Homo sapiens: one gene and its partners. The protein of the gene in region 1 interacts with the protein of each later gene in a pairwise test. Each region holds a gene or a part of one and is shown in the gene's direction. Other genes may lie near its edges.

Region 1 (4,186 bases):
TGCTGCTTTACTTTTGAGGCCAGAAAAATGGGAAGGCTCCCCTCTGACTCTGGAAGAGAGACGCAAACCGTAATCTCAACAACACAATCCCCACCTCCAACCTCAGCCGCCCTGGAGCCTCTCTCCCGCCAGTCCGCCCACTGGAACACGGGTTCCATGTGCCATCCAGGGTCAACGCCGCTCTGGGGACGCGTCAGGCCCAGCGCACAGCCTGGGCAGCTCAGCCTGTCAGCTGAGCACGGGCGCCTCAAGGGGTGCGGCCCTCTCAGAAGGAAGGTGAGTCTCCCTGGAGCCCCTGACGACAGCGAAGCGGCTGGGCGCTCTCCGGGGAGTGGGCGCGGCACCCAAGAAGGGTTTCTTACAGTTCCAAGAGAGGACCCCAGCCACAGTCACTCCAGAGCCCACCCGGGGCTTGGAGGAGGCTCTGGAAAATGAGGGATGGGGGAGTGTGCAGAACAGGGGGCGGAGGCTGGCAGGAGCCGAGGGAGGGCTTGGTCGGGTGCGAAGAGTGCCTGGGAGGAGTTAGAGTGGGGAGGGGGTGCGGCGGCGGGGAGAGAAGAGGCGGAGCTGGGGGACCAGACCGCTAAAGGAGAAAGGGGGATTCCAGGCAAGGGGAATGTGGCCAGGCAGTGCGGGAGGGCGGCAGCGGCCAGGCTAATATTCGCGACCCCGACTGGGGCGCGGCAACTTCTGCCCTCAGTCCCCACAAGCTCCCGGCCGCGATTCGCGGCCGAGAAATTCTGCGGAGGGGCCGGTGGGTCAGAGCCAGGCCAGGCAGTTGCTGAGCCTTCCCCTCCCCTCCTGGCGGGAGTGTGTGTGCAAGGGGCCAGGGGGCGGAGTCGGAGAAAGGGTTGGGGGTGTCCGTGTCCAGCGCTCCTCCGGACGCGGCTCCACAATCCAGCTGCGAGAACAGATGGACGCAGCGGCGGCTCACCTCGGGGGCTTCCTGCTCGCTGTGCGCCGAGGTCCAGGCTGAAGCGGAGATCGCAAGCCTCTGGCTCCCGCCTCTCCCAAGGGGCCTCGAGGAACCGGCTGCCGCGCCCCCTTCCCCAAGAGGAGAAGAGCGGGCGCTGACCCCGCGAGTCCTAGAACCGCGGGCGGGGGGCAGGCAGGGGGCGGGGGGCAGAGGGCCAGCTACCGGCGCGGAACGCCCATCCCAGGGGCTGGTTCAAGACTTCCACACCGAGAGCCCTTCCTGGGCCTCCAGCCCTGGAGCATCTGGAGAGCGGACCCCTGCCCGGCCACGCCCCGCCCCCGGCCCCCGCCCCGCCGACGTCGCATTAGCATGAGCGACGTAAGTGGCCCGGGCACCACTCGGGGGCTGGGACTCGCCGCGTCACAGCCCCGAGTGGAAGGGAAAAAAAAAGAGGAGGCGGCGGAGGAGGCAAGAGCCGACGCGAGGGGAGGGGAGCGCAGCGGCGGGGCTAACGGGCGGGCAAGCGGGCGGGCGGCAACAGCATGTCCCTCGGCCAGCGCGGGCGGCCTCTTAGCGCGGCGGGGGCTGCTCTGGGCGCGCCCCGGGCGAAGTGCGCCCAGTCTCCGGCCCCGGCCCCTCGGCGCGCCCGACTTCCCGGCCGCCCCTGAGCCCAGCAGCCGCGGGTCCCGGGATCGGCTAAGAGTAGCTGCAACGCCTCGCCGGACGGAGTCCTTTCCTTTCCCGGGACGCTGGGCCATGAGCTCCGCGGCCACCTGAGGCACAGGGGAGTCTGCTCGGCCAGGACAGCCTCCCCGAAGTCCCGTGCCCTCGCCTCTGCACTGCGGGACGCCAGCGCTCGGCCCTGGCGGAGGCGTCCTCGGAAGAGCATCGGGGTGGGGGCATGGAATCCGCGGAACCTGCGGGCCAGGCCCGGGCGGCGGCCACCAAGCTGTCGGAGGCTGTGGGCGCGGCGCTGCAGGAGCCCCGGCGGCAGAGGCGCCTGGTGCTTGTTATCGTGTGCGTGGCGCTGTTACTGGACAACATGCTGTACATGGTCATCGTGCCCATAGTGCCCGACTACATCGCCCACATGCGCGGGGGCGGCGAGGGCCCCACCCGGACTCCCGAGGTGTGGGAGCCCACCCTGCCGCTGCCCACTCCGGCCAATGCCAGCGCCTACACGGCCAACACCTCGGCGTCCCCGACAGCTGCGTGGCCAGCGGGCTCAGCCCTTCGGCCCCGCTACCCTACGGAGAGCGAAGACGTGAAGATCGGGGTGCTGTTTGCTTCCAAGGCTATCCTGCAGCTGCTAGTGAACCCCTTGAGCGGGCCCTTCATCGACCGCATGAGCTACGACGTGCCGCTGCTGATCGGCCTGGGCGTCATGTTCGCCTCTACAGTCCTGTTCGCCTTCGCCGAGGACTACGCCACGCTGTTCGCGGCGCGCAGCCTGCAGGGCCTGGGCTCAGCCTTCGCCGACACGTCTGGCATAGCCATGATCGCCGATAAGTACCCGGAGGAGCCGGAGCGCAGTCGTGCACTGGGCGTGGCGCTGGCCTTCATTAGCTTCGGAAGCCTAGTGGCCCCGCCCTTCGGGGGCATCCTCTATGAGTTCGCCGGCAAGCGCGTGCCCTTCTTGGTGCTAGCTGCCGTGTCGCTCTTTGACGCGCTGTTGCTGCTGGCAGTGGCCAAACCCTTCTCGGCGGCTGCACGGGCTCGGGCCAACCTGCCAGTGGGCACTCCCATCCACCGCCTCATGCTAGACCCCTACATTGCCGTGGTGGCCGGCGCGCTCACCACCTGTAACATTCCCCTCGCCTTCCTCGAACCCACCATTGCCACGTGGATGAAGCATACGATGGCGGCTTCCGAGTGGGAGATGGGCATGGCCTGGCTGCCGGCCTTCGTGCCTCATGTGCTGGGCGTCTACCTCACCGTGCGCCTGGCGGCGCGCTACCCACACCTGCAGTGGCTGTACGGCGCGCTTGGGCTGGCTGTGATCGGCGCCAGCTCGTGCATCGTGCCCGCCTGCCGCTCCTTCGCGCCGCTAGTGGTCTCACTATGCGGCCTCTGTTTTGGCATAGCCCTAGTCGACACAGCACTGCTGCCCACGCTCGCCTTCCTGGTGGACGTGCGCCATGTCTCAGTCTATGGCAGCGTCTACGCCATCGCCGACATCTCCTATTCGGTGGCCTACGCGCTCGGGCCCATAGTGGCAGGCCACATTGTGCACTCGCTGGGCTTTGAGCAGCTCAGCCTTGGCATGGGACTGGCCAACCTGCTCTATGCTCCCGTCTTGCTGCTGCTCCGCAACGTGGGCCTCCTGACGCGCTCCCGTTCCGAGCGCGATGTGCTGCTTGATGAGCCACCGCAAGGTCTGTACGATGCGGTGCGCCTGCGTGAGCGTCCTGTGTCTGGCCAGGACGGCGAGCCTCGCAGCCCGCCTGGCCCTTTTGATGCGTGCGAGGACGACTACAACTACTACTACACCCGCAGCTAGCATCCCCACTCCTCCTCCAGCCCACCCAACCGCCTTGGGTCAAGGGGGCTGCTCTGCAAGCCCACTGGCCAGCTCTGGCTCAGGGCCCACCTCCTCCAGCGAGTACCCCAGCCACTCCTCAACCTTGACTTCTGCCCAAATCCCCTCCCTGTGACCCGTTCCATATCCCTTTCTCTCTTGTCCAATGGGGCTTGGAGCACCGAGGCCAGCGAAGCCATCGCGCTCCTTGCGGAGGTGAAGAGGACCCTGAGTCCCCACCTGCGGCTCCCCTGTGTAGAGCCTGCATCTGTCTGTCCTTCCTTCCATTGCTCCCAGTGCCAAACTTGGGCCGCTGCACCGCGGCGCCTCCGCCCAAATCAATAAACTGTGTCTGTCCCAGGAGGCCGAGTCTCTTTACTGGTGGGGGGTGCGTGGAGGCGCGCAGGGCCAGAGCAGAGGGGAGGGTGAACTGGGTCTCCAAGTCCCAATCCAGACCTAAGCCAAACTAACACGTAGGCACCTGTAGCTGTTTTTCTACCTGGAAAAGGGGATAGGAAGGAAGCAAACCCAACAAAGGCTGTCACCCACGGTCACCAAGGAGCACCATGCTCCCCTCAGCCCAGGATAGACCCTCTTTTCCAGGCCTAGCGCAGAGCCCGGGGATGCCGCCCGGGGGAGCCTGAGGACCCGCTCCAGCTAGGCACGCCAGGCCCCGCCCTTTGAGGACACGCCCCACACCAGCCTCAGAGCTCTGAGGTGCCTGGGCTGAGCTTCCCTTCAGACCAGAATCC
Region 2 (3,500 bases), on another chromosome or scaffold:
TTGTTTTTGTTTTGTTTCTTTTGGCCGCCATTTCTCTGATCCAGGGTTAAGCTAAAGAGAACCATTGAAGTAATTGTTGATACTGTACATTTCTTCATTGTTAAATACGAATGAGAATTCGTAGAATCAAATACGATTGCAGCTTGCTTTGATTCACACGGCTTTGTGTGAATCAGATCTTTAAACAATTTTAGAGGAGCTGTCATATTTTCTAAAATACTGTTAAAAAATTGAATCAGTTCTCAAAATTTCCCACCCGCCCCTCCCCGTCCTTTTTTTTATGGAGACAGGGTCCGGCTCTGTCACCCAGGCTGGAGTGCAGTGGTGCGATCACAGCTCAGCAGCCTGACTTGGTGGGCTCAGGTGATCCTCCCACCTCAGCCACCCAAGTAGCTGGGACTGTAGGCGTGCACCACCATACCCAGCGAATTTTTTGTAGAGGCAGAGTCTCACTATTTTGCCCCAGACTGGATGACATTTTTGGTTTTTTTTTTTCTTCTTGAGATGGAGTCTTGCTCTGTTGCACAGGCTGGAGTGCAGTGGTGCAATCTCAGCTCACTGCAGCCTCCGCCTCCCAGATTCAAGCGATTCTTCAGTCTCAGCCTCTGGAGTAACTGGGATTACAGGCATGCGCCACTACCCACAGCTAATTGTTTTATTTTTAGTAGAGATGGGGTTTCACCATGTCAGCCAGGCTGGTCTCAAACTCCTGACCTCAAGTAATCCGCCCACCTCGGCCTTCCAAAGTGCCGGGATTACAGGCATGAGCCACCATGCCTGGCCTGGATAACATTTTTAAAGTAAAAAAACGAAGGGAAGTGGTTCTCAACATACGTTTGGGGTTTTTAATATACTGAGTTGCTGGGTAATGAAGCAGAGGCCTCCACTTCTATATCCTGTACTCAGAGAAGCTCAGAACCTTGGGGTCCTTATAGGCTTCTAGCCCATGGTGCACAGTTGTGTCTTGGGAGCATTACGGAAGCCAGAGCCTCTAGAAGTCCCAGTGACTTGTTCCATGGCACACGGCGGTGGCTGAACTCAGCAGGGAGTGAAGCTCCTTTTCAGAAGGGCTCTCTAGTCATCCTTCATATGAAAAGTTACCCGTTTGGAATGTGTACCCACTGGGTTTGACTCAGGTATTTAGCTAATGAATTGGACATTCAGGGGACTTTGGACTTTCTGAATGGTTAGAGAAATTTAGAAAACAAATGAATTTAGCTTTCACTTCATCAGTTCCACTTTAAGGAAATTACAGGCATCATCACAGTACAATGCAAAGAGCAAGTAAGTTACAGTAAAGGTTATAGGACCAGAATTTAGCAAGCGCCTATGAGGTTAAACCGCAGGCTCAGGTTCGTAGAAACCTCTGAACTCCTTTCATGATATGAGCTAGCCATCCCGTGTTGTTGCTGCTTCCAATTATGACACGAAGAATTGAGCTGGAGCCCAAGGAGACCTGCCTCACCGCGTTGTGCCTGTTTGTCACATGCCGACCTCCGTAGTGTGTTTGCGGTGCTGAGCGTCTTTGTGGTTAATTGAACTGTCCAAAAACTTGGGCCTTCTAAGGCTTCTTCACCTCTCTCCTGAGCTGCTGTTGAGGCTGATTGTTGAAAGGAGGTTGTTCCCTCCTGCTCTCTGGTGGCCGGAGGTTACTAACCAGCGGGCAGTCTGGTATTTTTCCACCACGACATCACTGCTTTGACACTTATGCTGTACTGCAGGCTGAAGACTGAAATGTTTATTTTCTATGTAGTTGCTTCCCAAGGCTAATAGAACGAGGACTTCGATTTTATGAACTTTAGTGTGGAGTCATTGTGTCAAGGTCAATTAGGAGATTTATGTTATGTACAAGTTCTAATTCAACTTGTTTCAGGCAAATTCAAAAGAAGTTCTTCATTAGTTTTTGGCTGGTGTTATAGACCAGTCATTTGACTTTAGACAGAAAACATTATTCATTGATTCTGTATCTTCACTATAATTCCCTATCATAAAAATAATGCCTGTGGCTATTGAGAGCAAAACTCTTTTCTTAAAGTAATACTTTTCCTTTACAGGGCAATATAAATACCCCTAATGCTTATATGAGTCAGCTTTAGTAACTGGGTGCAGTGCCTCACGCATTTTAGTAGGAATTCTGTGGTACATCAGCTTCAACTTGTTCCCGTTTATGCAGAGTAAAACACATGTATTTAAGTGGTTTTTAAAAACATATTGCTCAGTAGTGCAGAGTGTTTTACGACCCTGCCAGTGTTTTCCATTTTCTCAGCAACCTCCAGAAGTTGAGTGCAGGGGGATAGTGCTGGCCGGTGTGTCTGGGTTTCGTGGGGTTGGTTTGTGTTTGCACAGGTTTCACTGCTGTGTTTCTTCTTCCAGTGCGAAGTGCCAGAGGGTGGACTGGTCCCCAAATCTCTGTACCGGACTGCAGAGGAGCTGGAGAACGAAGACCTGAAGCTCTGGACTGAGACCATCTACCAGTCTGCAAGCGTCTTCAAAGGAGCCCCACATGAGGTACGTCCTCCGCCTTCCTGCACCTGGGCCGGCCCTTCCTCCGCAGAGGGCCTGGCCCTCGCAGGGCTTCCTGGCAGCCTTTCATTCAGAACAGTCCACTCGTTTTTCTGCTCTTTGTCTTTAGGCTTTTGTTGACACTCGATATTTAGTTTCAGTAAATGTCAACGTCGAAGAATGGGTCTCTCTCAGAATAGAAACTAGCTGTGCTTGATCAGAGTGCCTGGAAAGGAAATTGGATCTCTTGACCTCCATTTTACTAAAGCCACCAAACACAGAGATAGGAATAGCTAATCTTTCCTTGTTGGAGCACTTAACTCCTGAATTTAGTTTATTTCATGGTTATATTGAACAAGTTTCATGTGCTACTTTTTCTTTTTTTTTTTCTAGACAGAGTTTTGCTCTGTTGCCCAGGCTGGAGTACACTGGCATGATCTCAACTCACTGCAACCTCCGCCTTATGGGTTCAAGCAATTCTCCTGCCTCAGCCTCCCAAGTAGCTGGGATTACAGGCACCCGCCACCACGCCTGGCTAATTTTTGTATTTTTAGTAAAGGTGGGGTTTCACCATGTTGGCCAGGCTGGTCTCGAACACCTGACCTCAGGTGATCCACCTGCCTTGGCCTCCCAAAGTGCTGGGATTACAGGTGTGAGCCACTGTACCTGGCCCGTTTGCTACTTTTTCTTGGCTGGGTTTTGGTTATTTATAGATATCTTGGGGATTTTCCGATTTCTGTAAGTCTAATGGAGCAAGGAGGGTGTTCCTGTATTCCTTTTTTGCTGTCACTTTTGGTAGAGAAGCAAGGGCGTTCCGTGTTCCTGTGCATGCCATATGTCTGTCCTGTAGCATCACGAGTGACCTGAAGCAGGAGGGGCCTGCAGCGGAATCTCCCTTCTCAGCTAGGACAAGGTTCGTGGCCCAGAGTTGTTGGAGAGGATGGTGGCACTCTGTGCAGAGCAGGTGTCAGTGAGGATGTGGTGCTGGCTTGGGCAAT
Region 3 (3,500 bases), on another chromosome or scaffold:
TTGCTCTGTCTCAAAGACTTTCTCCTCAGCTATCCATAAATCATGCCCTCTCACCTTCTTTAGGTCTTTAGTTATGACACCTGATTGCAATAACACTTTTCCTTTATCCCTCCATTTAAAAGTATAGCCCCTCCCGTATTACTCCCTCCTCCGGAACACCAGGATCTGTCATACTGTATAATTTACATATTCATTTTTGTCCATTATATGTCTTCTACTAGAATGTAAGCTGCAGGCATTTTTGTTTTATTCACTGCTTGTTCTTCAGTGCTTAGAAAAGTCCCCGATGTATACTAAGTACTCAAATATTTATTCCAATTGAATTAATGGCGTGTGTCCTACACTTTGGGAAATACATATACTGGCAACACCTCCCACAATCTGGGGTCCCTCCAGTGAGCCTCTCTTCACAGTCACATGGTTAGTCCTGTTTGTCTCTGAGAGTCTGGCCAATTGAGAGCTCAGCATTCAAGGCAGAGAACTTGAAACTTGACTGGATCCTGAGTTTTTTCCAGAGAAAATAGTGCATATGCCAGGGAAAATGGAGGAAGGAGAGACAGTCAGGATTGGTTGGGAGTGCAACCCTAGGAGAGATGATTTGTTCCCCAAGCACAGAAGGAAAGTCCATCTCTCTCTCCTCCCATAGCCCCCTCCCTTGTCTGGCCCCAGTACCTAGGTTCTGTTCTGGAAGACACCTAGAAATGGCTCAAGCCTCAGCCTGAACCCGGTACTGTGGCTTGAACCTGTGAGGTGTTTTCATGCGTTGCTTTCAAGAGCTACTTGCCAGGCTTTGGGATTTTTGGAAAACAATTGAGAACCAGCTATTCCCTTTTAGCTTTTTTGTAAGTTAAAAGAGAAACTATCACTTAAATAATTGAAAAACAATAGAATATTTTATCCTTGGTGCCTTCAGTTGACTCTTAGTTGATTAAGAGGATACCATTTTTATTTCCCATATCCATGGTGACTATTCCTCCTAAAGGTTGTTTGAGAGTCATGCCAACAAATAAGCGTAGTCTTAGCCTCTTGTCTTCCAAGGTACTTTTGTTAGCACCTGATATTGATGGTTTTCATCTCATACTAGTTGACCCCAATTCATAGACATTTAGACATGTAAGCCCCTTAGGAGGTTTGTCCAAGGGGTAGGGGTGGGGTATCTTTCTAAGTTTGGTTATCTAGCCCTAGTCACTTCACCTGTCAGAGAACCATGTGCCCCTTCCCTCTGGTTGTGCTGGTTGATACTGATAGCTTTATAAGTAGCAAGTTTGAGGTGTGATAACTTTCCGTGATTTTTTTGCATGTTAGCATCTTGATTCCCAGGGAGAGATAATGAGCAGCTAGCTCTAGGCTTACAAGTTCCCCTGGAGTTGCTGGTATCTTGAATTTCTTTCCATTTATTTTAGGAGTAAAAGTCCCTCGCAATTTCCGACTGTTGGAAGAACTCGAAGAAGGCCAGAAAGGAGTAGGAGATGGCACAGTTAGCTGGGGTCTAGAAGATGACGAAGACATGACACTTACAAGATGGACAGGGATGATAATTGGGCCTCCAAGAGTAAGCGTCGAGCTACGGCTATAAATGTCAATGTCTTAAATTCACTGTGCCTCCTTTTAAAAAATATTAGCCTTATCACGGAAAAAAAGCTCACCAATGGTATATTTTCTGAAATGTGGCTATTCTTTTTTGACCAGTTTCAGTTTATATATTTGAACCTCCTCTGATGCTGTTTAACCCCTCTAAATGGTAAGCAAAAACCTGTTTAGACTCATAGTGTGAATTTATATGACAATGTAGACAGTGAGGTGTGAAGTCATTGCACCATCAGATGTCGTTCAGAACAATCTCTGGGCTAACCAAATAACTAGGCCCTAGGTATAGCCAGCATTCCTGAAGCCAGTCTCCAAATTAACTCTGGAAAGCCTTCCCAGTTGTGGTTTTTCTTCACTGTCTCCCAGGTCTGCCGTGCACCTGTATCCTAGTTCCTTGGGCCATTCAGCAAAGGTCCCTGGCAAGCCTGTCAGCTCCTGGTCTATTCCAGGCACTACTAGACCCAGAGGCCTTTGCAAAGAAGACGAAGACAATGAGGATGGGGAAAAGTGGCCTCTTTCAGACCTTCCTGATTTGTGAGAGTTCCCAGTCTTCATAATGCCAGCCAACCGTTTTTTGAGGACACATAGTAAACCCTCAAGAAATGTCTCTTAACTCTCACAAGACCCCATTGTTAGGTGCAATTGCATTCCATTTCACAGATGAGGAGACAGACTCAGAGGAGTCAGATCTCTTGCCCAAAGTCACATAGCTGGTAACCCCCAAACCAGATCTGACTCCAGAGCCTGTGCTCTTAACCACTGTGCTGTGGTGTCTCCCTTTTGTTTACATTTTGAGTTTTCATCTGTTACCATTATAGAAGATACTAATCAAGTAGTAACTTGATGTAGGAGTCAAGAAATTGATTTCCATACTGTGACACACACTTCAGACAAGCAGTAAGGGCCTCTGCCTGAATGTAGCAAGACCTGTCCTGTGTCTGCTTGTGTTTAAGGATGATGACAACATTCATTCTTTTGATTGTGTGCAGGACTCTGCACTAGCACTGTGAGAGCAGAAAGACATGTAGGGCGTGGCCCGGGCTGGAACAGGGACAAGTGACATGTTCGTTAAGTGTTAGGACACTAATGCTCATTTCAGATGGTCATCAACACTCATGGTGAATGATTGGCTTTGCCATTTAATGTTGCTTCTTAAGTCATTTTGTGACCCTATAGTTTTGTGGAGTTTTAAAAATATATACATTTGATCTGTTTTTACTCATTTCTTTATCCTTTTTTTCCTGTGAAAACCAGAATTTTCTGCGTCTGCTAAATACCGGGGAAAACCCAATCTAGAAATCCTGTTTCTCCATGGAGATAATTTTCTTTGCTGTCTCTGAAGGTCCATCATATGCTGACATCTTCTTCACTGCATGTCTTCTCTTCCTAAGAATGATTTCGGTTTCTTGAGGATGAGAACTGTGCTTCCCTCCTTACTTCCCAGAATACCTAGAAATGACTCAGAATGGGGTACTCAGTAGATTTGTTAATCAACTTACTGATTTACAGGTTCTAAAATACTGAGAATTGAACCAATGTACAACATTGCGATACACTAAATACCACTGAATTGTACACTTTCAAAAAAACACACAAAACAATGCATCAGTAAATTCTGCTGAAAATATTCTGTCTGCCTAAAACAGCTTGGGCTACCCTGAATTTCAGTTTATCTCTTTCCAAAAGAGGCTTTGGAAGTTGTAATGCGTAGCTACGGTATGCCAGGAGTCCTCCATGTATTTGTTTTTGGTAACAGCTTTATTGGGATAGAATTCACCCTTTTAAATATACAGTTCGGTGGTCTTACATTCAGAGTTGTGCATCCGTCACTAATTTCAGAACGTTTTCATCACCTCAAAAAGGAACCCATACCCATCGGTAGGCACCCCCCATTCTCCCTCCCACATCCCCCA

The links. Proteins that work in one complex are often made in the same cells at the same time.
Region 2: the proteins of SLC18A3 (region 1) and SEC14L1 interact in a two-hybrid assay, tested with the Homo sapiens proteins (one study listed by BioGRID).
Region 3: the proteins of SLC18A3 (region 1) and PEDS1-UBE2V1 interact in a two-hybrid assay, tested with the Homo sapiens proteins (one large-scale study listed by BioGRID).

The regions. Positions count from the first base shown.
Region 1 is NC_000010.11:49,608,924-49,613,109, forward strand, and holds SLC18A3 (vesicular acetylcholine transporter), read left to right. Parts: upstream 1-1,386; 5' UTR 1,387-1,817; coding exon 1,818-3,416; 3' UTR 3,417-3,797; downstream 3,798-4,186. UniProt on the Homo sapiens protein: Electrogenic antiporter that exchanges one cholinergic neurotransmitter, acetylcholine or choline, with two intravesicular protons across the membrane of synaptic vesicles.
Region 2 is NC_000017.11:77,206,969-77,210,468, forward strand, and holds part of SEC14L1 (SEC14-like protein 1), read left to right. Parts: intron 1-2,373; coding exon 2,374-2,508; intron 2,509-3,500.
Region 3 is NC_000020.11:50,094,724-50,098,223, reverse strand, and holds part of PEDS1-UBE2V1 (TMEM189-UBE2V1 fusion protein), read left to right. Parts: intron 1-1,403; coding exon 1,404-1,552; exon of another isoform or gene 1,553-1,738; coding exon of another isoform or gene 1,739-1,741; intron 1,742-1,953; coding exon of another isoform or gene 1,954-1,977; exon of another isoform or gene 1,978-2,809; intron 2,810-3,500. Other genes in the region: UBE2V1 (ubiquitin-conjugating enzyme E2 variant 1), read left to right, coding at 1,404-1,552.